Linked DNA regions of Homo sapiens: region 1 is linked to region 2. Evidence: fine-mapped QTL for protein levels in blood plasma. A gene starts in region 2. The other region holds a variant in brackets. All regions are shown on one strand. Distances are between the middles of the regions.

What was found. PIP is the chance, under the fine-mapping model, that this variant and not a neighbour inherited with it causes the effect. The UK Biobank Pharma Proteomics Project read protein levels with antibody pairs (Olink). The fine-mapping took linkage between variants from a reference panel, not from the people measured, so its PIPs are less certain.
Region 1: its variant is fine-mapped to the plasma level of the SPINK4 protein (UK Biobank, PIP above 0.99).

The regions. Positions count from the first base shown.
Region 1 is chr9:33,222,229-33,234,429 of GRCh38, reverse strand. No RefSeq gene overlaps it. Among named protein-coding and RNA genes, the nearest start is that of SPINK4, 12 kb to the left of the region's middle. RefSeq lists enhancers at 1-1,027, 7,165-7,334. The variant C/G (reference allele first, on the strand shown) is at 4,947.
Region 2 is chr9:33,235,517-33,246,068 of GRCh38, reverse strand. It overlaps SPINK4 (serine peptidase inhibitor Kazal type 4), which reads right to left and starts at 5,902. Exons shown (of 4, transcript NM_014471.3): 1 at 5,800-5,902; 2 at 917-957. The coding sequence starts at 5,860.

The DNA.
Region 1 (12,201 bases), 12 kb after region 2:
GGGGATTCCTGGAGGCAGAGGAGAGGCCAAGACCTAAATGCCCTGGGCACCTGCACAGGTCCTGGAATCAATACAATCAGGACACAGATGACCTAAAACAGGGCTCAGGCAGGAAAGCTGGGCAATTCCTGCATCTTCTGCCCCAGGTCAGAGTGAAAACCTGGGTCCTGTGCCTTGGCTGGGCCAACACTCCCCAGCCTCACCCAGCAGCCTTCATGCCATCTGCTTAGATTGGCCTGGTGCCCAGCTCCTTGAGGTAAACAGCCACTCCTTGATGACGGCAATGCTGGATCCATCAGGTCTGAGTCATGGGTTCTGCTGATGGGTGGTGGGGACAGAGGCCTTGTTTAGCTTAAGGTGGGGGAGCTGAGCTCCAGCAGAGCTTGGGTCTGCCAGATGGCATGGCCAGCATGGCCAGTTTGCCCTGGGACCACCTTCCCTGGCCTCCAGCTCACATCCTGCTCCACCCTTCCTCCAGCCCAAAGTGCCCCCACCTGCCTGGAAACCTGTGTGAGCTACCCAGGTGTGGGCATCCCCTCCAGGGAGACCTGGTCTGGACTGAGCCAGCTCCACAGCCTGTCCTGGGCCCCTCAGCCACCCAACTCTATGTCCCAGGTCTAGAGCCCACCTGCCCATTCCACTTGGTCCAGAGCTGTAGGGGGCAGGCAATGGGAGGACACTACTTTAAGGAGAGGTTTCATCTACTTTTTTGGGATTTGACTCCAAGGAATGCTCAGTGATGAAATGAGCTGAAGTCATCCCTCCATGGGGGCATCCACTCTACCATTCAATGGACACTTATTGAGCACCTGTTGTGGGGCACCAATCACTATGCCAGTCCCTGGGACTCCAGAGATGAGTGAGACTTGGACTCAAGGAGCTTGCAGTTCACCAGTGGTGGAGAGGTGGAATGGACTCTTGAGCAGGAATCTATAAAATGCTGTGGTGAGAGCTGTGATAGAAATAGAGATATTCCTTCCACCCCATTATCCTATGGACCCCCTTCTCAATATGTCCAAAAGTCAACTTTCCATCTTCTGTCCACCCAGAGCTGCCCTACCTCCCAGTTCCCCCACCTGGGTGGACAGCACCACCATCACCCCACTGCCTTAGGCTAATCTGGGGACCATCCTGAGCTTCTCCTTCACCTCTACATTCCAGGAACCAGGTCTTACTGATTTCACCTCCTCACCACCTCTCATATCCATCACCTCCTCTATATTTCCCCTAGTTCAGCCTCTGCGATCTCTCACCTTCATTACTCATGCTGTTTCCCTGCCTCCAGTCTCACCTCCTCCAATCCATTCTGCTTCCAGAGCCATCTTTCTGAATGCAAAAATGACCACATCATCCCTCTGCCTAATATTATTCAATTACAGATAGTCAATTCAACTAAAGTTACTCAATCACAATGACTCAAGCATGAAAACCAAGCTCCTTGGTTTGTATGACATAAAAGTTCCGCCACGACTGGTCCTCTGTTGGCCTCTCTAACTTCACCTCTGGCCACTTGAGCCTTCACCCCATCCGATAGAACCACCTGCAGGCTTTTACGCCTCCAAGCCTTTTCTTATGCTGTTCTTCCTGATTGGCGTGCCCCTCTATTACCTCCCCTTGGGCTCTCCTCTCAGACCCTCAGCCCACTCCAGTTTGGGGACCATGTTTGCACAGACATCTATCCCAGCAGCAGCTGTAATGTTTCATGACCTTATCTTGCCTATGTGACTATCTCTCATATTTCCTTAAAGAGAGGAACAGGGGGACATTTAAGTCACTTCATATCCCCAGTGCTCTGCCCAGGGCCTGGCATGTGTGTGTTGACTATTTGAATCCATCCTGCACTGGATGAAGTCTCAGGACAGTAAGGATGCCAGCTTCAGATGCTTGGTCTGCTGGACTGAGGGCTTGAGGAAGCTCTGAGGACAAGCTGGACTCTAGTGGGTCCACTGGGTCCAGCCAGTGACATCCTATGCTGTGTCCATATAGGTGGGAACAGAGGTGGCACTCTATTTCAAGGACCACATTTTCTACTAGCTCTTAGCCAACCTGGCTGGGGACCTAAGAACTTAGTATCTCCTCTAAGACCTGAGTGTGGTGCTTTGTCTCCATAAGCTACCCCAAGACCATCTGCTGAACTCACAGGAAACAGTTTCAGTGCCTATCTTCTCTCCTGGTGCATGGACTCTTGGCTTGATCACCTCCAACCATAAGGGATTATCATACAGACCCATCGAGGAGTGGGGCTGCTCAAGAGACCTGGTGTTCTGGGACCTTGTGCCATCCAAACATTTCCATTCATGGACATAACCAGTGGCTCAAGTCCTCTGAGCATACATACAAAAGAGCTTAGAACAAAGTCTCTTGATACCCCCTTCCGTTCCAGAGCTCTGATGGCCTTCAGAAAAATCAGATTATCACAGCCTGGTGCAACATGTCACAACTCCAGACCACTATGAATTTTGATAGGGTCCTTGGGTTGCAAGCAACAGAAGTAGATTTTGGCAAACCTCAGCAGAATAATAATTTTCCAGAAGGATGTGGTATTGTCTTAGGTTGGACTCAGGGGCAGACCATGAGAAAAGCACATTAGATTCCAAATCATTTTCTGGGAGGCAATCCCACGAAACACCTGCAGGAGAGTGGGAATAAGGAAGGCAGGGAAGGGAACTAATAATGTATGCATCGCTGAGGTTACCACTGGGGAAACTGGGCCTCAATCCAACCAGGGATGGCTGGGACACTGTGTGGCACACATGGCAGAGTTATCCCCACTGAGAGGTGAAGGAATTGGGGTATATATCCAGCAACTCCCAACAGTCGCTGATTGAGGGCTGCTGGAAGAGAGACCATTAACTCCCTGGCACTATCGGCTAGCTCCTTTCATGTCTCTGGGCTCCTAGAGAAAGCCTCCGGGCAAAGGATTGCAAGGGTTGCACAGGGAGGCCGCAGGTATGCACAAGAATGGGGAGTGGTAAACAGTGTGGGTGGGACACTGACAGTGCCTGCTACCACAGCTGCACAAAAAACTAGGTGACAAGCTGAAAAAACTATGCCCCAAAAGAACTGGGCTCAAAAAACCTAGAGTTATGTGTCCACATTCCGTTTTTTTGGTTTTTGTTTTAGAGACAAGGTCTTGCTCTGTTGCCCAGGCTGGAGTGCAGTGGTGAGATCACGGCTCACTGCAGCCTTGACCTTCCTGGCTTAAGCGATCTTCTCTCCTCAGCCTCCCAAGTAGCTGGAACCACAGGTATGCATCACCATGCCCAGCTAATTTTTTATTTTTATTTTGTAGAGACAGGGTCTTCTTATGTCGCCCAGGCTGTTCTCGAGCTCCTGGGCTCAAGTGATCCTCCCAAAGTGCTGGCATTATAGATGTGAGCACTGTGCCCAGCCCATGTCTACTTTCTGACCAGGGAAGGGAAGGCATTTTTATGGACAGTCCCTTATTTGTATCCAATGAAGGTAAGTAGGTCTCCAAAGAAAACCTGGGATTCTATTACCGAAAGGAGGAATGTTGCTGGTCAGACAAAAGCCACAGATGTTACTAAACCTTCCCCACATGCTTACTTTGTTTTGTTTTGTTTTGAGACAGAGTTTTGCTCTGTTGCACAGGCTGGAGTGCAGTGGCACGATCTCAGCTCACTGCAACCTCCGCCTCCCGGGTTCAAGGGATTCTCCCACCTCAGCCTCCCGAGTAGCTGGGATTATAGACGCGCACCACCACACCCAGCTAATTTTTGTATTTTAAGTAGAGACAGGGTTTCACCATGGCCACATGCTGATCTTTCACTTGTACGATGAATTCGCTCACAAGAGCCCAGGGCTTCATAAAGCTGGCCCAACAAGGGCCTCCTGATGGCTCCTGGACACAGGGGTGCCGTTGTCCAGAGTAACAGCTCCCAGACTCATGTTGGAGTCCTGAGTGCTGCCTCCCTTCTGGGCTGTGCCAGGGGTGGGCCAGGAGGCAGCCATGCCATCAGAACCTGGGCTCTGGAGTCTGGACACCTTGTCTGTGTGACCTTGGGTGTGTCATTGCACCTCTGAGCCTCAGTTGCTCACCTGTAATCAGGGCTACTTCATGTGGTTGTGTGGAATGTGTTCTGTTCATCTCCAGGGGGTGCCATTCCCCTTAGATTCCATGGGCCCTGTAGTGTGCACTTAACTGGAGTGGGGGCAGGTAAGGTATCCAGCAGCAAAGTTCAGAGGCCATGCAACCTGCCCAAAGGATCCTGGGGTGTGCTGGGGAGAACCAGAGTTTTGTTCACAATCTCCCACTCTCATACTTTTCTTTGGGGGGGCTGTCATCATGCTCTCCCACTTATAGACAGGCTTACTGTTTGCTATTAGGGATGGGGAGGTATGGCTGCAGACCGCTTTTCCCAACTTTGTGAACTAAAGGAACAGAAGGGACTTTTCTCCTCTCCCCACAGCCTCCTTCAGTGTATAAAAACCCAAGAGGAGACTCTGATTGGGTTGGGTAAGTCATGTGCTCATCTCTTGAACCAATCAATGTGGCCTGGAAATTGGGCATCTGTGATGGGCCGGGCTGAGGTCACATGTACCCTATTGTTGCCAAAGGAACAGGATAAAATGATTAGCGATTTTGGAGCCTGGCAAATGGCACAGCCTCAGAGCCCAAAAGGCTAAAGTCTTCAGTCGGTTCCAGGAGCCCTGGAAATTCTTTCCTTTTCATGATGTTTCTTTTCCATATCCAAGGTGGCCCTGGTTGGTACCCACCCTCTTAAGGCAGACTCTCTTCCAGGCAGGTGCTTTCAACATGCCCATGGGCACTGGTCCAAGGCAGGCAAGGGAGAGGTCTAGTTCTCATGCTCAAAGGCGCCCAGTAAATATTTGAGGTGAGTCAGTGCGTTGACAGGTGAGGCCTCAGGGCTTGTCTGCCCCTCCCTGGTGATTGTCTCCACCTGACCCTCAAGCTGCCCGAAGAT[C/G]TCTGCTGCCCTCTCCCTGTGGTGGGTGTGATCTGGGCATGGTCCCCTGCCCAGGGTCTCCTGCCCACCTCTTTCTTCCCAGCCTCGAGGAGGGGTCCTTAGATCCGCACAAGGAGTTCCCCCTCTTAGCCTCTTAACCTGGCCTTATAATTCTATCTATTTTACAGACGAGAAAATTAAGGCTCAGAAAGATTAAATGACAAGTTCGAAGTTTCCAGCATTGTAAGTGGCAGAGCCGGCATTCAAAACAATATCTGATTTTAAATCTCAGACTCTTACCAGATTCCTCTGCCCACCATAGATTCTGGTTTTAAATACATACACCCAGAAGCCCATCCTGGCCCAGTAACTGAAATAGCAGGAGCTGAAAGAGCCGCACAATTTGAAGTGAGTTTCGTGGAAAATTCTGTGGTCCAGCCTTGGCAGGAAGTTGCCAAAATAGTCGAGTGTGGACCACAGGTGGAACCTCCTTGCATCTGGGCCCAGCTAAGGTCTAGAGGTCCCTGAATATAGACCCTCTCCAAAAGGCAGTCATTCCAGGGGGTCCAGGCAGAAGGTGGGAGGAGCTGCCACACATGCCCCACGGCACTTATAGGTTCAGCAGGCAGGACCCATGTGACCCCAGCTTGGCATCTTCCCAGACACAGCCACTGGCAGTATCTATGACCAGGCTGAATTTAGACACGGGGTCCAAAATACTGCTACTCATCCCACCACCGACCCCAGCAACCTGCACCCTCCTCACCAACATTCACATAGTACCTGTGCTGTCCTCGGCATTGTTCAGAGGGTACACTGCTCCCTTTGCAGAACCTCTCCTGTCTGGCCCTCAAGGCCAACCTCCCCCTCCCTTTATGGTGAATGGGGTATGGGCATGGAGTCTCCTGCCGTCTCTCCTCTTCCCTCCCAGATTTGAAAAGAAGTCTTTGGACTCTCACCAGGATATGTGATATCCTGATATGTCCAGCCTTAGGGTCTTCTGCTGTCCCTTTCTGAGAATCTGTGCTTGCTGGGAACCCAGGACAGCTCCAAGGACAGGAAGGACTGAAGGAAGGGGCAGTGTGGTTTGGAGAAAGATCCCAGATTCAGGAATACGACAGAACCGGGTTTGAACCCTCATTTGGCCACTCACTCACTGTGATAGGCAGACCGATGCTCCCATCCCCCCAAATACCTACCTCCTTATCCCCCAAACCTGTGAATATGTTACCTCACATGACAAAAGGGATTCTGCATCTGTGATCAAAGGAAGGATCCTGAAATGGGGAGGTTATCCTGGGTTACCTGGGTGAGCTTGGGCCATAAAGTTCTCATAAGAGGGAGGAGGGAGAGTCAAAGAAGGAGCTGTGATGATGAAAGCAGAGTGGGGGGTGATGCAGGCCTGGATCCCAGGGTTAGAGGCAGCCTTAAGAAGCTGGCAAGGGCAAGGGACGTTTTCTCCCGTAGGGCCCCCAGAGGGAGAGCAAGCCTGTGCCCCATTTCTGACTCTGACCCCCGAGTGGAACAGAATGCATTGATGTTGTTTGAAGCCTCTGCGTTTGTGGTAATTTGTGACTGCAGCCATGGGGTGTGAATCCACAAGTTCTGTGACCTCAAGCAAATTCCTTAACCGGAGAGCCCACATTCCCTCATGGGGTGAGGGTGCCGTGGCTCATGCCTATAATCCCAGCATTTTTGGGAGGCTGAAGTGAGAGGATTGCTCGATCCCAGGAGTTTGTGATCAGCCTGGGCAATATAGCGAGATCTCGTCTTGACAAAAAATTGTAAAATTAGCCAGGCATGGTAGCACACGCCTCTAGTCCCAGGTATTTGGGTGGCTGAGGTGGGAGGATCGATTGAGCCTGGAGGTGGAGGCTGCAGTTAGCACCACTGCACTTCTGCCTGGCCTACAGAGTGAGACCCTGTCTCAAAAATGACAACAACAACAATAATAACGCCTACCTTGAAGTGTTGTATTAAAAAGTATATATTAGGGCTGGGTGCGGTGGCTCACACCTGTAATCTTAGCACTTTGGGAGGCCAAGGCGGGCATATCACTTGAGGTCAGGAGTTCGAAACCAGCCTAGCCAACATGGTGAAACCTCGTCTCTACTAAAAATACAAAAAAACATTAGCCTGGCATGGTGGCGGGTGCCTGTAATCCCAGCTACTCAGGAGGCTGAGGCAGGAGAATCGCTTGAACTCCGGAAGGGGAGGTTGCAGTGAGCTGAGATTGCGTCACCGCGCTCTAGCCTCGGTGACAGAGTAAGACTCTGTCTCCAAAAAAAAAAAAATTAAACGCCTGGCTCATAACAAAACTTAATACATGATGCCGTTATGAAAAGGAGGAAGAGAGAGGTGAGGAGAAACAGAAAGAGGAAGAGGGAAGAGAGAAGTTGGGTGGTGAAGCTACAGCCAGCCCCATGTTCTGGGCAGCTCCAGGCAATGCGGGGCCCATGGAAACCTGCCCATCTCTTCACCTGGCTTTCATTCATTTTGACTTCAGGACACTCTTATTCTCCTTAGAAGGGTCAGGGCCAACCTCTACTAATAGACCCCTATGAAAGCTTTCCCTACTGAATGAAGAACTGCAGTAAAAAACAGGTATAAGAGCCTGCCCCAGTATACGCCTCTGGCACTCCTGTGGCTCCACGCCACCAATGCACAGCAGCAGATTTGTCTTTCCGCCTTTTTAACTTTCCAGGCTTGACCAACAGTAGCCTATGCAGAAATGTGCAAGTCACAAGCTGAATCCTTCTTTTGTGAAGGAATTGAGCTGGTGACCTGAGAGAGCTGGGGTGTGTGTGTGTGTGTGTGTGTGTGTGTGTGTGTGTGTGATTTCCAATTGCCTCCAATTTCTCCACATTCTCAACATTTTAACATTCTAGTGAGTGTAAAGTGATATCTCATTGTGGTTTTAGCTTGCATTTTCCTGAAAACTAATAATGGTGGGCACTTTTTCCTGTACTATATAGCTACTTATATATCTCCGAATGTTGATTCACGACTTTTTGCCTATTTAGATAAGCTGGGTTGTTCATCTTTTTATTGCTGATACAAATACATTGTTGGTGGATGTGTAAAATGATACAACTTATTTGGAGAATTGTTTTTCGCAATTAAAAAAATTACACATCTATCCATGCTATGACCTTGCAATTCCATCCACAGTAAATAAAAAGCATATGTCTACACAAAGCCTTATTCGTAAATATTCATAGAAGCTTTATTTGTATTAGGCAATAAGTGGAAATGATCCAAATGTCAGTCAGTTGGTGCACAGATAGACCAACTGGAATACAGCTATGCAATAGAATACCACCTGGCAATAAAAGTGAATTAACTATTGATACGTGCTACAACATGACTGAATCGCTAAAACATTATGATTCCTGAAAGAAGGCAAACACAAAAGAGTATGCACTGTATAATTCTGTATAATTCCACATATGTAAGTTCTACAACAGGGGAAGCTAATTGTGGTGACAGAGGCGGATCAGTTGTTGCTTTCAGGGTAGGGCATGGGGAGAGTAGGAGGGAACCTTCTGGGGCAGTGGAAATACCGTATATATTATTTAGAGTAGGGATTACACTGGGGTATACAGTTGTCGAAAAATCATCAAATGAAGATCTGTGCATTTCATTGTATGTAAATGTTATCTTGTTAAAAACAAAACTGAATTATGCCACAAATTTGAAGTGCTACCACCAGGTGGCACTGATGCGTAATTTCCAAGAGTTCAACTGTAAAGTTTATGCAGTGACTAAGACTCATAAATCATTCTATTTGCAAGTGTTCTCAAAAGCATGTGGCATTGTTTTGTGGGTATTTTTCATTTCAAAAAATAATATTGTGCTGGAGGCCTCCTTCTGTTCCTTTCTTCTTTTTTCCCCCATTCAGCATTGTGGAGTTTTGGCGTTTTTTGCTCTTGTTTATTTGTTTTTTGTAGAGACAGGGTCTCACCATCTTGCTCAGGCTGGTTTCATACTCCTGGGCTCAAGCAACCCTTCTGTCTCAGCCTCCCAAAGTGTTGGGATTACAGGCTTGAGCCACTGCAACTGGACAGAACCATGTTTTAAAGATTTCTTGACCTTTTGTGTGTATCTAATTCATTGCTTGTTACTGTGGTAGAATATTCTGTAGTGTGCTTATGTCACATTTTACTTACATTCATTTCCCCAATGATGAATGCCTCATTGCATCCAGCTCTCCAGCCATCACAAATAACTTGGTGATAAAATATCCTCTTATGGCCAGGCACAGTAGTTCACGCCTATAATCCACCCCCCCCAGACTTTGGAAGGCCGAGGCGGGTGAATCACCTGAGGTCGGGAGTTCGAGACCAGCCTGACCAACATGGAGAAACCCTGTCTCTACTAAAAACACAAAATTAGCCGGGCATGGTGGTGCATACCTATAATCTCAGCTACTTGGGAGGTTGAGGCAGGAGAATCGCTTGAACCCACGAGGTGGAGGTTGCGGTGAGCCGAGATCGCACCATTGCACTTCAGCCTGGGCAACAAGAGCGAAACTTTGTCTCAAAAAAAAAAAAAAATCCTCTTACATGTCTCTTTATGGAGTTGTGTGAGAATCTCTTTAATTATATAGCCAGTAGTGGGATCCTCCCCATCCCTACTCATAATATTTATTTATTTGTAGCATTTTATCCCCTTCTACTTAATACATTTCCTCCAGAATTGGTCATTATCTTGGGTGAAATAAGCCAGTCCCAAAAAGACAAACGTAGCATGTTCTCACATATGTGGGAGCCAAAAAAAATGTGATTACATTGAGGTAAAGAGAGGAAATACGGAGAACAGAGACTGAGAAGAATGAATGGAAGAGATGGGGAAGGATGAAGAGAAGTGGGTTAAAGTGTACAAACAGTTAGATAGAAGGAATACATTCATTGCTTGATAGCAGAGTAGGGTGACTATAGTTAAACAAAAATGTACTGTACTTGGGTGATGGACAGCCTAAATACCTTGACTTGATCACTATGCATTATATATATATGTAACGAGATTTCACATGTACCCCATAAATTTTTACAATTTTTACAAATAAAAAGATGCATCATAAAAAATTTCCTTCAAAATCTTCATGCTAAAAGTTATTAAGTATATTTAAGCAATGTCCTAAACTTTTAAATTAAAGGGAATATTTGCTGTGAATCCTTTTACTTCTCTCTTTGCAAAATAGCAAGTGTTGTTTGAGATGTGTTTTAAATTTACAAAATAGTATTGCTGACTAAGATTTGGATGTCCTTTTTTTTTTTTTTTTCATTCTCAAAGGAGGTGACCAAATTGTTAATCTGGATTTTTTTATACTGAATAAATTTCTCTCAATTTTTTTGTGGTATAGCAACTGAATTTGTGCACCATTGTAAATTGTAAATTAAAGCTGATATTTAAAAACAACTTTTAAGGCAAAGTTTCTCAATGGTGACACTACTGACATTTGGGACCTAATAATTCTTTGTTGTAAGGGGCTGCCCTGTGCCTTGTAGGAGGTTTGGCAGCATCTCTGGCTACTACCCACTAGATGCCAGTAGCACCTCTTTTCAGTTGTGACAACCAAAAATGTCCCCAGACCTTGTCAAATGTCCAATGGGAGACCAAAATTCACTCCAGCTGAGAATGACTGTTTTAAGATAAATGAAGTCTGGGATTCACTGGGGTCTTTTTCTAGATGTTTCCTTTCTTTTAATCAGTTCATTTCAATCCCAATCTCGGCTATAGACTTGTATTACATGGCCCTTTAAAAAAACATCCTCCCCTGCTTTCTAGCTGGAATAAAGCTCCTCCTGGAGACACTTTATCTCCAGATACTTTCTGGAGTCCTTTGTCTTTTAGCAGACTGAGCATCAACAGGCTTCCATGTTCGCTTCTCTCTAGGTTTCCTAACCTCCCCCTCTCAGCCACTGCAGAGGTCAGAGGAGGAAGACAGAGTCAGAATTTCTCCTGTGCTCCCCTCCCAGAGGAACCCAGAAGAGCAGAGAGAGCCCCACAGCAGTGTGATAAGAACTCCAAAGAAGTGGGGCGTGGTGGCTCATACCTGTAATCCCAGCACTTTGGGAAGCCGAGGCAGGCAGATCACCAGAGGTTGAGAGTTTGAGACCAGCCTGGCCAACACGGTGAAACCCCGTCTCTACTAAAAACACAAATTAGCCGGGCGTGGTGGCGGGCTACTTGGGAGGCTGAGGCAGGAGAATTGCTTGAACCCGGGAGGCGGAGGTTGCAGTGAGCCGAGATCGTGTCATTGCACTCCAGCCTGGGTGACAGAGCGAGACTCCATCTTAAAAACAAACAAACGAACAACCACCACCCCCCAAACAAAACAAAATCTCAAAAACAAACAAACAAAAAACCCCCAAAACAAAACAAAACAAAACTCCAAAGTGGGACGACTCAGTCTGTGAAAGAAACATCCTCCTCTGCTTTTCAGTTCTGACATCCCTCTCCCCTCATCAAGTGTCTATTAATTCTCTAGACCTTTGTAACTTAATTATCTCCAAGACTCGAGTGAACACTAGAGTGCTCACTGTGCCCCTCACCTCTGTTCCTCGGCATCCTAGCCCCGCAAGGTGCTTCTCAAGAGGTATTCTCTATGGTCAACGAAGTGAGCGAAATGCTGCTCACTGGATCTCTCTCTGGGACACTGGCACTGACCACTAGTTTATTAAAGGCTGTGAGAAGCTTTTCAGGAGTCTATTTTTCATCCAGCATTTCTTGGATTAAGTGATTACAAAAGCTTCCCACTTCCCCCACCACATTTAACAAATATCTGTTAACATCCCTCTGAATTGGTGTCAGAATTGGTGTCCCAGGGAACACGGTTTAGGAAATGTCTTAAATATTAACAACCTTCCAGCCTGGCCAACATGGGGAAATCCCGTCTCTACTAAAAATACAAAAAAATTAGCCAGGCATGGTGGTGCGTGCCTGTAGTCCCAGCTACTCAGGAGGCTGAGGCAGAAGAATTGCTTGAACCTGGGAGGCGGAGGTTGCAGTGAGCTGAGATTGTGCCACTGTACTACAGCCTGGGTGACACAGTGACACTCCATCTCAAAATATATATGTACATATTAATAACCTATACCTTTTGCAAATCACCTTCAAATGCCATTAATTTGTTCATTAATTTGCTCAAACAAACTGCTGAGCATCCTCCATGCTAGGGAGTACGGCTACAAAGACTACGTGTCCCAGTAGCCCCCAGACTAGTCAGGGAGCAGATGTGGGCAGACTGTGCTGGCACCTGGGACAACGGCTG
Region 2 (10,552 bases):
CTGTCTGAAAGGGTTTTAGGACAGGCCTGAGGTCAAGGTGAGAACTCAGTCAGGACTGGCATTAGTGCCTGAGACAGGGATAGGCTGAGAAAGGTTGTGCGGTGCAACCGTGAAGGCCCGAACCCTAGAAACCTGAATTTTGCCACTGATTAGCTGTATAACCTTAATTGAGGTATTTCCACTCTCTGAGTCTCAGTTTCCTCATCTGTAAAAATTATAATAGTGGCGTTTCTCTCACATAGGGCTAATTGAAATAATGTATGTAAACTATTTGGCTCTTTGGCACTGAATAAGCGGGGCTGGATTCTGATGGACTGACGGGGACGATGCTGAGGCTGTGGATGGGAAGGTGGCTCCGAGCCTCCTCATTCCACTACATGAAGGGGCAATCTCAAGAGTCTCAAGGATGCCAGTACCACTGCCTTCTGGGTCACTGGGGGCATTAGGCCAAGGGCCAAGGTGGAATCAGGATTCGGGGACAACTTGGTGTTTAGACAATCAGATGGAATGTGGTGGTGGGAGGCTGGCACACTCCACAGGTGCTTTCAGTGTGCCAGGGTCCCCTCTTTGGCCTGAACTCTGTGGCCTGCCTGTCTGCACTATACAGAGCAGAGAGCACACCCTGTCCTGCTAAGCCTGGGTGGGGAGATCTCACTGATGGAAGGGGCCTTGGACACCAGGTGGGGGACATCATAAGGGCTTTGAGGCCAATCTTGGGACTTGGGTGAGGGGGCTGGGCCTACTCAGCCTTGGGGGCTAATGTGGGGAATGTGCAGGCCAGGAGGCCACCTTGGCCACCTTGGAGCCATTGAAGGTGTCTGAGCAGGATCGTGGAGAAGAATAACTGGTTTCTCAGCATGGACGAGAGGACTCCTCTCAGCAGAGAGAAGGTGAGAACAACACGCAGCTGCCTTACCATTCTTGAGAAAGGGAGCTTTCCTGCTGCCACTGGCACTTCTGAAACACAAAGAAGCAAGAATTAGATTATGCCGGCTCTAGACCCCAGGTCTAGGGGTCTGAGGACTGCTTCTGCTTCAGGGAGCTTGGTCCAGCAACTACCCAACCTGGAATTCCTCAAGGAAAGGTGATGAGCCACCAGACAATGGGGCTGCCAGAAAGCTGATGTGATCTTGGGTTCCATAAACAGAGACAGAAATTCAAAAATTAGGAAGGTGACAGTCCAGCCTATTCCTTGTTAGTTAGATCCCACTGGAATTGTTGTGTCCCATATAATAATTATAAAATAGCAATTCAGCAGTTATTATGTGCCGGGCATTGAGAACACATGATTTTAACTCCTCTCCACCCCTATCTTACTGCTGTGTAACAGAGGGAAGAAAGGAGATAGTAGTGGATGCTGTGTTCTGCCATCAAGAGCCCTCGCGCAAGTCTGAGGCACTCATTTCCCCTGCTGCCAGAAATATTGACCACTCACTGCAAGTCTCTTCCTAGGAATTACCCTCAGAGAATGAAGCTGCCTTGCCCAGGGCTGCATCCACTACCCAGGAACAGCCCATATCCCATGTCGGGTTGATGTGGTTACAAAGGGCCTGATCCCCTCGCCCAAAGCTGCCTGTAGGATCATCTGAAGCCTCTGTTGTGCTGCATGGAAGTCAACTTCCCTCATCCTTCATGGATGTTACTCCCATGAACGCTCCCCAGTAAATTGCATGTATAGCTCAGAATCTGTTTCCTGGGGCATAGGTCAGTTTAACGAACTACGAAAGAGGCTCAAAGAGGTGACGCAATGCAGTTTGTTAAGGCAGAGGTAGGATTTTCCCACACGTCTGTTGCAGTCCAGAGCCTGACTCTTTCTACATACACTGGTGTACCCCTCAAGGTCTGGCTGAACTGCTTAAAGGACATGAGCAAACTGTGATGTGACTGACAAGCATGATGGGTGGATGAGGGAACTGGAGCTATGTCTAATGGCACAGGTGGAAGGAAGGGCGTTTATGTAAATTAGAGAAGGGCAGGATGCTCCCTGAAGTCTCTGAAGGGCTATCCTGGGGCTGAGGGAGAGATGGACTCTTTTCAACCTCACAAAGCAGAGCCCATCTCTGTGAGGAGGCTGCAGGGAAGCAGGTTTGGGTTCCATATGAAGCAGAATTTTCTCTCAGTGGGAGCTATGCCACAGTGAAAGAGGCTTTCTCCAGAAGTAGTGAGTTTCCCATCACTGGAGGTGTGCAAGGCAATGTAGTTTTATATTTTCCTGGAGATGCTATTACAGGGTATTTCCACAGAGAGAGGGAAACAGAAACTTAGACTAAGTCACCCCAATGTGCTGTTTAAGCCTGGCATTGGGGTATCAAAATGCAAACCTAGACCTGTCACTGAACTGCTTAAAACCCTTCCATGTCAAATTGCCCAAACTGAAAGTGATCCAAATGTCCTTCAACAGGAGAATGGATAAATAAATACAATGGGGCACTACTGAACAATTAAAACAAGCAACTGATACATGCAATAACGTGGCTGAATCTCAAAAATAGTTTGCTGAGCATAAGAAACCACACACAAAAGATTATATACCCTATGATTCCATTTATGTGAAATCCTAGAACAGGCCAACTAATCTATGATGGAAAAAAATCACATTGGGAAGCTGGGGCAGGAGGATCACTTGAAGCCAGGAGTTTGAGACCAGCCTGGGCAACATAGCAAGACCTCATCTCTACAAAAAATTTAACAATGAGGGCAGGTTGCAGTAGCACACACCTGTAATCCCAGCGCTTTGGGAAGCTGAGGCAGGTGGATCACCTGAAGTCAGGAGTTCGAGACCAGCCTGACCAACATGGTGAAACCCCATATCTACTAAAAATACAAAATTTGCTGGGCGTGGTGGTGCACACCTATAATCCCAGCTATTTAGGAGGCTGTGGCAGGAGAATCACTTGAACCCAGTAGGCAGAGATTGCAGTGAGCCAAGATTGTGCCACTGGACTCCAACCTGGGTGACAGAGCAAAACTCCGTCTCAAAAATAAATAAATAAATAAATAAAAATAAATTTAAAAAAATTTTTAAATTAGCTGAGTGTGGTGGCACGCACCTGTAGTCCCAGCTACTTGTGAGGCTGAGATAGGAGGATCGTTTGAATCCAGGAGGTTGAAGCTGCAGTGAGCTATGATTGCACCACTGCACTCCAGCCTGGGCAACAGAGTGAGACTTTGTCTCTTAAAAAAAAAAAAAAAGTGTCAGAGCACTGGGATGGGGGCAGGGATTGACTGACATAGGGGAATTTCTGGGGCTATGGAAATGTTCTGTATTTATTTTTCTTCCCTAAGTCCTTGTCTCAAGAGGTCCTGTATCTTGATGGGGGTTTGGGTTACACGAGTGTATACATTGTCAAGATTCATCGAGTGATAAGATTTGTGCATTTCTTGATATTTAACTGTTAGGGAAAAGAAAAGCATTTAAAAAATATAAAGCCCTTCCGTGGTTCCCTGTCCTGATCACTAAGCCTCCCTATGGACCTGAGCTGCTTAGTCTTATGTTTAGGGTACTGCGTAAGCTGACCCTAAACTTGCTTCTTGGGCTGACTTCCCAGTACACCTCTCCATGCCCCAGCTATTCCTCTCTGCTCACGGGTCCTAGATTGGGCCCTGCTTTGGCTCATGCCATGTCCCCTCCCTGAAATGTCTTCGTCTCCGTTCTCCTCCCGCCGAATCATACCCTCCTTTCAAGGCTTGATGCTGCCCCCCAGTGAAGCTGTCCTTGACGTCCCCAACAGTTTCCTGAGCAGATCTGGATGGAGGCTTCTTTCACACCACCATGTACTGTCCCACTCACTGGGTCACCCCGCCTCCCTATGCACCTGAGCTCCTTGGGGTTCCTTTATGTCTGCCTTTGCGCAGCACTTGGTTCAATGTCCTACACTGTGGGTGTTCAGGAATTGAATACTAAAGTGCATTGGTGTAATCCCAGCACCTTGGGAAGCCGAGGCGGGCAAATCTTGGGGTTGGAAGTTCGAGACCAGCCTGGCCAACATGGTGAAACTCCGTCTCTACTAAAAATACAAAAATTAGTTGGGTGTGGTGGCATGTGCCTGTAATCCCAGCTACTCAGGAGGCTGAGGCAGGATAATTGCTTCAACCTAGGAGGCAGAGGTTGCAGTGAGCCAAGATCGTGCCACTGCACTCCAGCCTGGGCAACAAAGCAAGACTCTGTCTTGAAAAAAAAATTTTTGTTTAAATAAAAAAAAAAATTAAAGTGTATTGGGAGGAGGGGGTGTTCAGAACTCTAAGATGTCAGAGTTTCTTTCTGGGGGATGTGGGGAAAAGCTACATTTACCCCCAGGCTGCCCTTGACCTTGACCCAAAATGCCCCCTCCTCACTCAGCCCAGGCAGTAGTCTGAAATGTGCAAAAAACAAAAACAAAAACAAACAAACAAAAACCAAACTTCTTCAGAGCAGGCTTTTCAGTGTTCCCAACTGCTCAAGGAGTAGGTAGGTGTAGGTGCCAGGCTGGGCGTAAGCAGGCTGCTCCTGAACAGGTCCCCAGACCCGTTTCCCTTTCCCCCTGTGCCCAGGTCTGTTTCCAGCTGGGGAAATGGGTGTGGGACTGGCCATGAGGTCAGTGGCCCTGGATCCTGCCAGGCGTTGCCTTATAACTTATGGCTTTTGTCCAGGCGGGTCCTAACTGGTCTCCCCGCTTCCCTGTTCAGTTTATTCTCAATGTACCAACCAGAGCAACCCTTGAAAGACATAACTCTCTGCTCAAAGCTTTCAGTGCCTCCCATTTTAGTCAGAGGAAAAGCCAAGTTCTTATGTTGGCCAACAAGGTCTTTCCCGGTACAGTTCCAATTTGCCTCTCTCATCTCCTCTCCTATCACTCCGTACAATGTCCCCTCCTGCCACACTGGTCTTACAGTACCTCAGTCACTCCAGGCATGCCCCTGCCTCAGGTCCTTTGCACCTGAGCTGTTCCCTCTGCCTGGAATCTTCTCCCAGATATCCACATGGCTTAGTCCCTCATCTCCTTCAAGCTTTGCTCAAACATCGGACTCTCAGAGATACCTCCCCTGATTTGAAATTGCAACCCCCTTCCAGTGCCCATCACCCTGCCAAGTATTTTTTCCTTAACTTTTATCAGCTTCTAACATACCGTTTAACATACATTGTAACCATCTTGTTTATTGCCTTTCCCCTTTTCCTCTACCCCATTGGATTTATGCTCCATCAGGACCGTGCTTTTTCTGTTTGGGTCACTAATCTGTCTTAAGGGCTCAGAACAGTGCCTGACATGGTAGCTGTGAGATTGCAGGGATGGCCCAGATCCTGAGAGGGCCCTGCCCCAAGTATATGTGTCCAGTCCTGGGAAAGGGCTCTGTCGTGCTCACATGGCTGCCCAAGTCCCAAACCACAGCCTTTCAGAGAGATCGGGAGCTCAGAAGACCTCGGCCAGGTCTCTCTTAGCATCCACCACCCTGCACCCAGCATACTTGTCAGTCTCTCCTGAGAGCTGGGACCTACCTGCTCCCTTCTGTCCCCACAGCCTCCAGCCCAATAGTTGCTCAGTGCAGCTTTGAACTGGAACAATGCCCTCTTTTACAGCTGGAGAAACTGAGGCCCCAAGAGGGTAGGGGACTTTGGTAATTCTGCGCCAGTCAGGATTTGAACCCAAGTTTCTTTTCTCCCAGCCCAGAACTTTCCCCAGCACAGTGGAGGGTGCATATGCAGAATGAAGGTACATGGAAAAAGCTGAGGCCTCACAGGGTGCTCCAGGCCCTGCTTCTGCTCTCACCCCAAGCTCACCTACCAACACAAAGCCACAGAGAATCCAGGTTCTGCCCACTCACCCCTGTCCACAACAAGGAGGGCAGCCAAGGCCAGGGCGATTACCCACTGGCGGACGGCCATGCTGATCCTGGGATAGTGTAGCCTGAGCTGGCTGGGGCCTGCGCCTGAGGAAGGATGGGGGCCTATTTATAGTGCCGCTCTCCTAATCTTATCTTATCTAGGGCCAGATGGAGAGACCAGAGTTAATCTTTGCACGCTGACATCCGGAAAGGGCTTGCTCTAGGTGCAGATGCTGAGCTTTTGATGAGATGGGGCTGTGGCCATGGGGCTGGCAGGTTTCCAGAGTGACAAAAAGTTTGGACAACTTGCAAAGCTGACTCCAATCTGAGGGTTGGAGCAAGGAGAGGAAAGTTGAAGTAGAAAGAGAGAGAGTTCAAGGCAGAGAGAAGGGGAAAGAGATAGAGAAAGAGAGAAAGGAAAAAAGCAACTGGAAGATGGCAGGAGGCAGAGAAGGGGGCTGGAGCCTGGATTCCTTTGCCAGTGCCTCCAGCAACCAACTCTGGGACCTCGGTAGAGCCACTTTTCTTAACTGGGCCTCAGATCACCCATGCACGAAGTGGAGATGAGACTTTTGGCTCTGCCTTTCTCCCAGGCTGCTGTGAGGATGGCGGCGGTGATAGCAGACGGGAAAACATTTTGCAGAATATGAAATGAGCTGTAAACGTAAGCAGAAATGATCATTTTTACTTACTTTTATTTCACTTATTTTTTTGTACCGCAAAGTGGGCACAACTAACAGGCAAAACAAAGGCAAAATAAAACATTAAAAGGAAGATGCCTTCTTGCTTTGCAGGTATTATGTGTTCATTTGCTTTTTTTTTTTTTGAGACAGAGTCTCACACTGTTGCCCGGGCTGGTGTGCCTGGCGCGATCTCGGCTGGCTGCAACCCCTGCCTCCTGGGTTCAAGCGATTCTCCTGCCTCAGCCTCCTGAGTAGCTAGGATTACAGGCACCTGCCACCTGCCCAGCTAACTTTTTGTATTTTTAGTAGAGACGGGGTTTCACTATGTTGGCCAGGCTGATCTCGAACTCCTGACCTCGTGATCTGCCTGCCTCGGCCTCCCAAAGTGCTGGGATTATAGGCATGAGTCACTGCACGCGGCCTCATCTGTATCTTCATAGGTTAAATAAAGACAAGATTCTTTTAAAGAAAAATCAGTTTCTAAAACTCCCCCATACTTACATAGTATACATTAATAAGTCATTTGGATATTTGCTCTCAAAGAATTTCTGATATATAAAATACATTTTATTTACATACACGTTTCTCTAATTCATTTAGATCAGTGTTTTTCAGCTCTGTCTGCAGATTGGATTTCCCTGGGGGAGAATTTACAAATACAGATGCTGAGCTTCGCTCTGAAATATTTAAATCAGAATCTGTGTTTTTTTTTTTTAAAGAAAAACTTTATTTCGAAAGATTTCAAGCCTGCAGATAAGTTGCAAGAATATTCCAATGACAAGGCGAAGGATTCTTGTTTGAGGACAGCCCCAGCCAGGTGCGGTGGCTCATGCCTGTAATCCTAACACTTGGGAGGCTGAGGCAGGAGGATTGCTTGAGCCCAGAAATTAGAGACCAGCCTGGGCAATATAGCAAGACCCCAACTCTAAAAAAAAATTTTTTTTTTAATTAAAAAAAGAACAGTCCCTTTGGGGACACCAGCCATCCAGTCACCTCTACAGACCCATAGAAGCCCCAGACCTGTGGCCAAGACTAGCTTGAGGCCCCCAGTGATCCTTGACTCAGCTTCAAGATCCTTCCGTTCCTCCTTAGGAAACTGCACAGTCCCAGGGATGCCTCTGAGGCAGGTGGCAGCTATCTTTCCATTGCTTAGGCAGGTAGAGAAAATATTTAATGATGACTTCCTGTCCTAAAGCAAAAACGCCATCTTATAAAAGGGGAATTGGACTTTAAAGGTCATCTTGGGGCCAGGCACCATGGCTCACACCTGTAATCCCAGCACTTTGGGAGGAGGCTGAGGCGGGTGCATTCACTTGAGGTCAGGAGTTCGAGACCAGCCCTGGTCAACATGGTGACACCCATCTCTACCAAAAATACAAAAAATTAGCCAGGCGTGGTGGCGCATACCTGTAATCCCAGCTACTCAGGAGGCTGAGGCAGGAGAATTGCTTGAACCTGGGAGGTGGAGGGTGCAGTGAGCCAAGGTTGTGCCACTGCATTCCAGCCTGGTGACAGAGCGAGAAACTGCCTAAATAAATAAATAAATAAATAAATAAATAAAAATAGGCTTGGTGTGGTGGCTCACGCCTGTAATCCTAGCACTTTGGGAGGCCAAGCTGCATGGATCACCTGAGGTCAGGAGTTCGAGACCAGGCTGGCTGACATGGTGAAACCCCATCTCTACTAAAAATACACACACACACACACACACACACACACACACACACAAATTAGCTGGGTGTGGTGGCGTGTGCCTGTAATCTCAGTTACTTGGGAGGCTGAGGGAGGAGAATTACTTGAACTAGGGAGGCGGAGGTTGAAGTGAGCCGAGATTGCGCCACTGCACTCCAGCCTGGGTGATGGAGCCAGACGGTCTCAAAATAAATAAATAGATACATAAATAAATAAAATAATAAAATAAAAAATAATGGTCATCTGGGTTTCATCTCCCTTCTTCCACTAGGGCTTTCCTACAGCAGCCCCACTGGGAGGTCATTCATGGTGATGGGGAGCTCACTACCTACCAGTTTCGTTGTTGGATGGCTTCGAACAAAGACAGTCCTTCCTCACACAAGAGGTCTGCCTCCCTGAGAGTCCTTGGGGCTTATAGCTTTGTCTCTGGCCTCCTGTACTTGCATGAACCTCCTGTACTTGCACAAGCACCTTTAGGCTGAGCAGGTCTGCCATCTGCCTGCCTCCTACCCTTGCACATGTGAAGCTCCTGGGCCTCTCTCCATTTCTCATCTGATCACTGACAGGTCTGTCTGTCAGTGTCCCAGGTTACAGTGAGGAAGGGACAGAGGGGAGCAAAGGGATTTGATCCCTTCCTTGTTTTGGACCTTAGATTTCTATCCACGTGGCAGAAATGGCTACTGAACATTCTAGTTGCTGCAAGGAGCCAGGACGCTTGAATTTTGCATCCTTCAAAGTACAGAGTAAAGTCAAGGGCAGCCTGTGGAGTACTGAGCTCACTTACCATCCCAGCCCACCCCAAGGTCTCCTCTTCAGACAAATACCTTCTAGATTCACTCATAGTAACAAACTTCGTAATCTGTCATCCCATCAAAGTGTGAACCTAGCTCCTATATCCGACTGCTATTGAACAGCCCATTAAGGATGTCAGTGCATCCAAGAAAACCTCACCATTAATTCACCATTCATGTATTCAGTAAAAGTTTAACAAGCGGCTAAGTGCCATGCTCCATGCTGAGTGCTTGGATATGGCAGAGAGTGAGTCAGATACAGTTCCTGTCCTCCAGGAGCTTTGGTTAAGTAGAGGCACAGTACTGAACGGGCAGCAGCATTGTATCATCACTGCTGGAGTGAGTCCCATGAACCACACATGCTCTGTTCTGTGAGAGGATCCAAGAGTGACCTATCCATCTGAGATCAGAGACGCCAAGGGCTGAGTGGGCAGGGCAGGCTGTAGCCAAGTGGAACAGTGCTGCAGGTAGAGGAAACAGAATGTGTGAGAGCCCTGAGGCAAGAAGAAGCTTCTCACATCTGAAGAACAGAGAAGCCATGTGGGCAAAGTGGGGCCAGGGAGCCGGGGAGGGCCATGACAGGAGTCTGGAATGGTCAGTGGGGGCTAAATAAGCCTTGATCTCTGCTCCCCTGACCCACATCCCAGCAACCTCCGGCAGTGGAATCCCAGGCACTGACCCCTCAGCCTTGTTTGCCTTCCCATGGAGGGTCTAGGTTCTGCTTCCTACATAGCTCTTGAATCCATCCCTGCCCCTCCACACCCCCCACTCTACCCTAGTCCTGGCCACTGTTGTCTCCAACCTGGCCACCTCAATGGTGTCCTGTCTCATATCCCTGGCTCTCCACCTGCCACTCCAAATCACTCTGCACGCAGCGTCCCGGACAAGCGTCCTAAAGAGCAAAGCTGACCAGGTCATCTTGCCCAAAACACTGTAATGGCGTCCACTGCCAACAGGAAGAAGCCCAAACTCCTTAGCCTGGTGACCACACCCCTTCAACATCTGATCCCAACCCATCTTTCCAGCTTCACCTTCACCTTGCCCCACCCTGGACCTGCACTTCTTCAGTTCAACTGAACCCCTTGCACAATTTATTCTGTCTGCTGGCAATGCTGGGTCTCCCTTCTCTATCCCCCTACTCCCATCCTGTGAAACCTAGCTTAAACATTCCCTCTTCTGAAACCTTCCTAACTGCCTTTCACCAACAAGGTCATGACTGTTGTCACCCACCCTGAATGCCCCACTCGCATTGTGCCTTCTGTCTCCTCCATCCGTGTCTTCCCCCTGCACTTTGGTGGCCCTTGCTTATCCATCTGCTGACTAAGCTGCAAGCTGTCTGGGAAAAAGGACAATGTTTCAATTATCTCTATTGCCCTGGTGCCCAGTCCTGAGCGTGGGACACAGTAGGTGCTCAATAAGTGTTGAGGCTAGGCATGGTGGCTCATGCCTGTAATCCCAGCACTTTGGGAGGCTAAGGCAGGAGGATGGCTTGAGGCCAGGAGTTTGAGACCAGCCTGGGCAATGTAGTGAGACCCCATCTCTACAAATTTTTTAAAAATTAGCCAGGCAGTGTGGCACGTGCCTTGT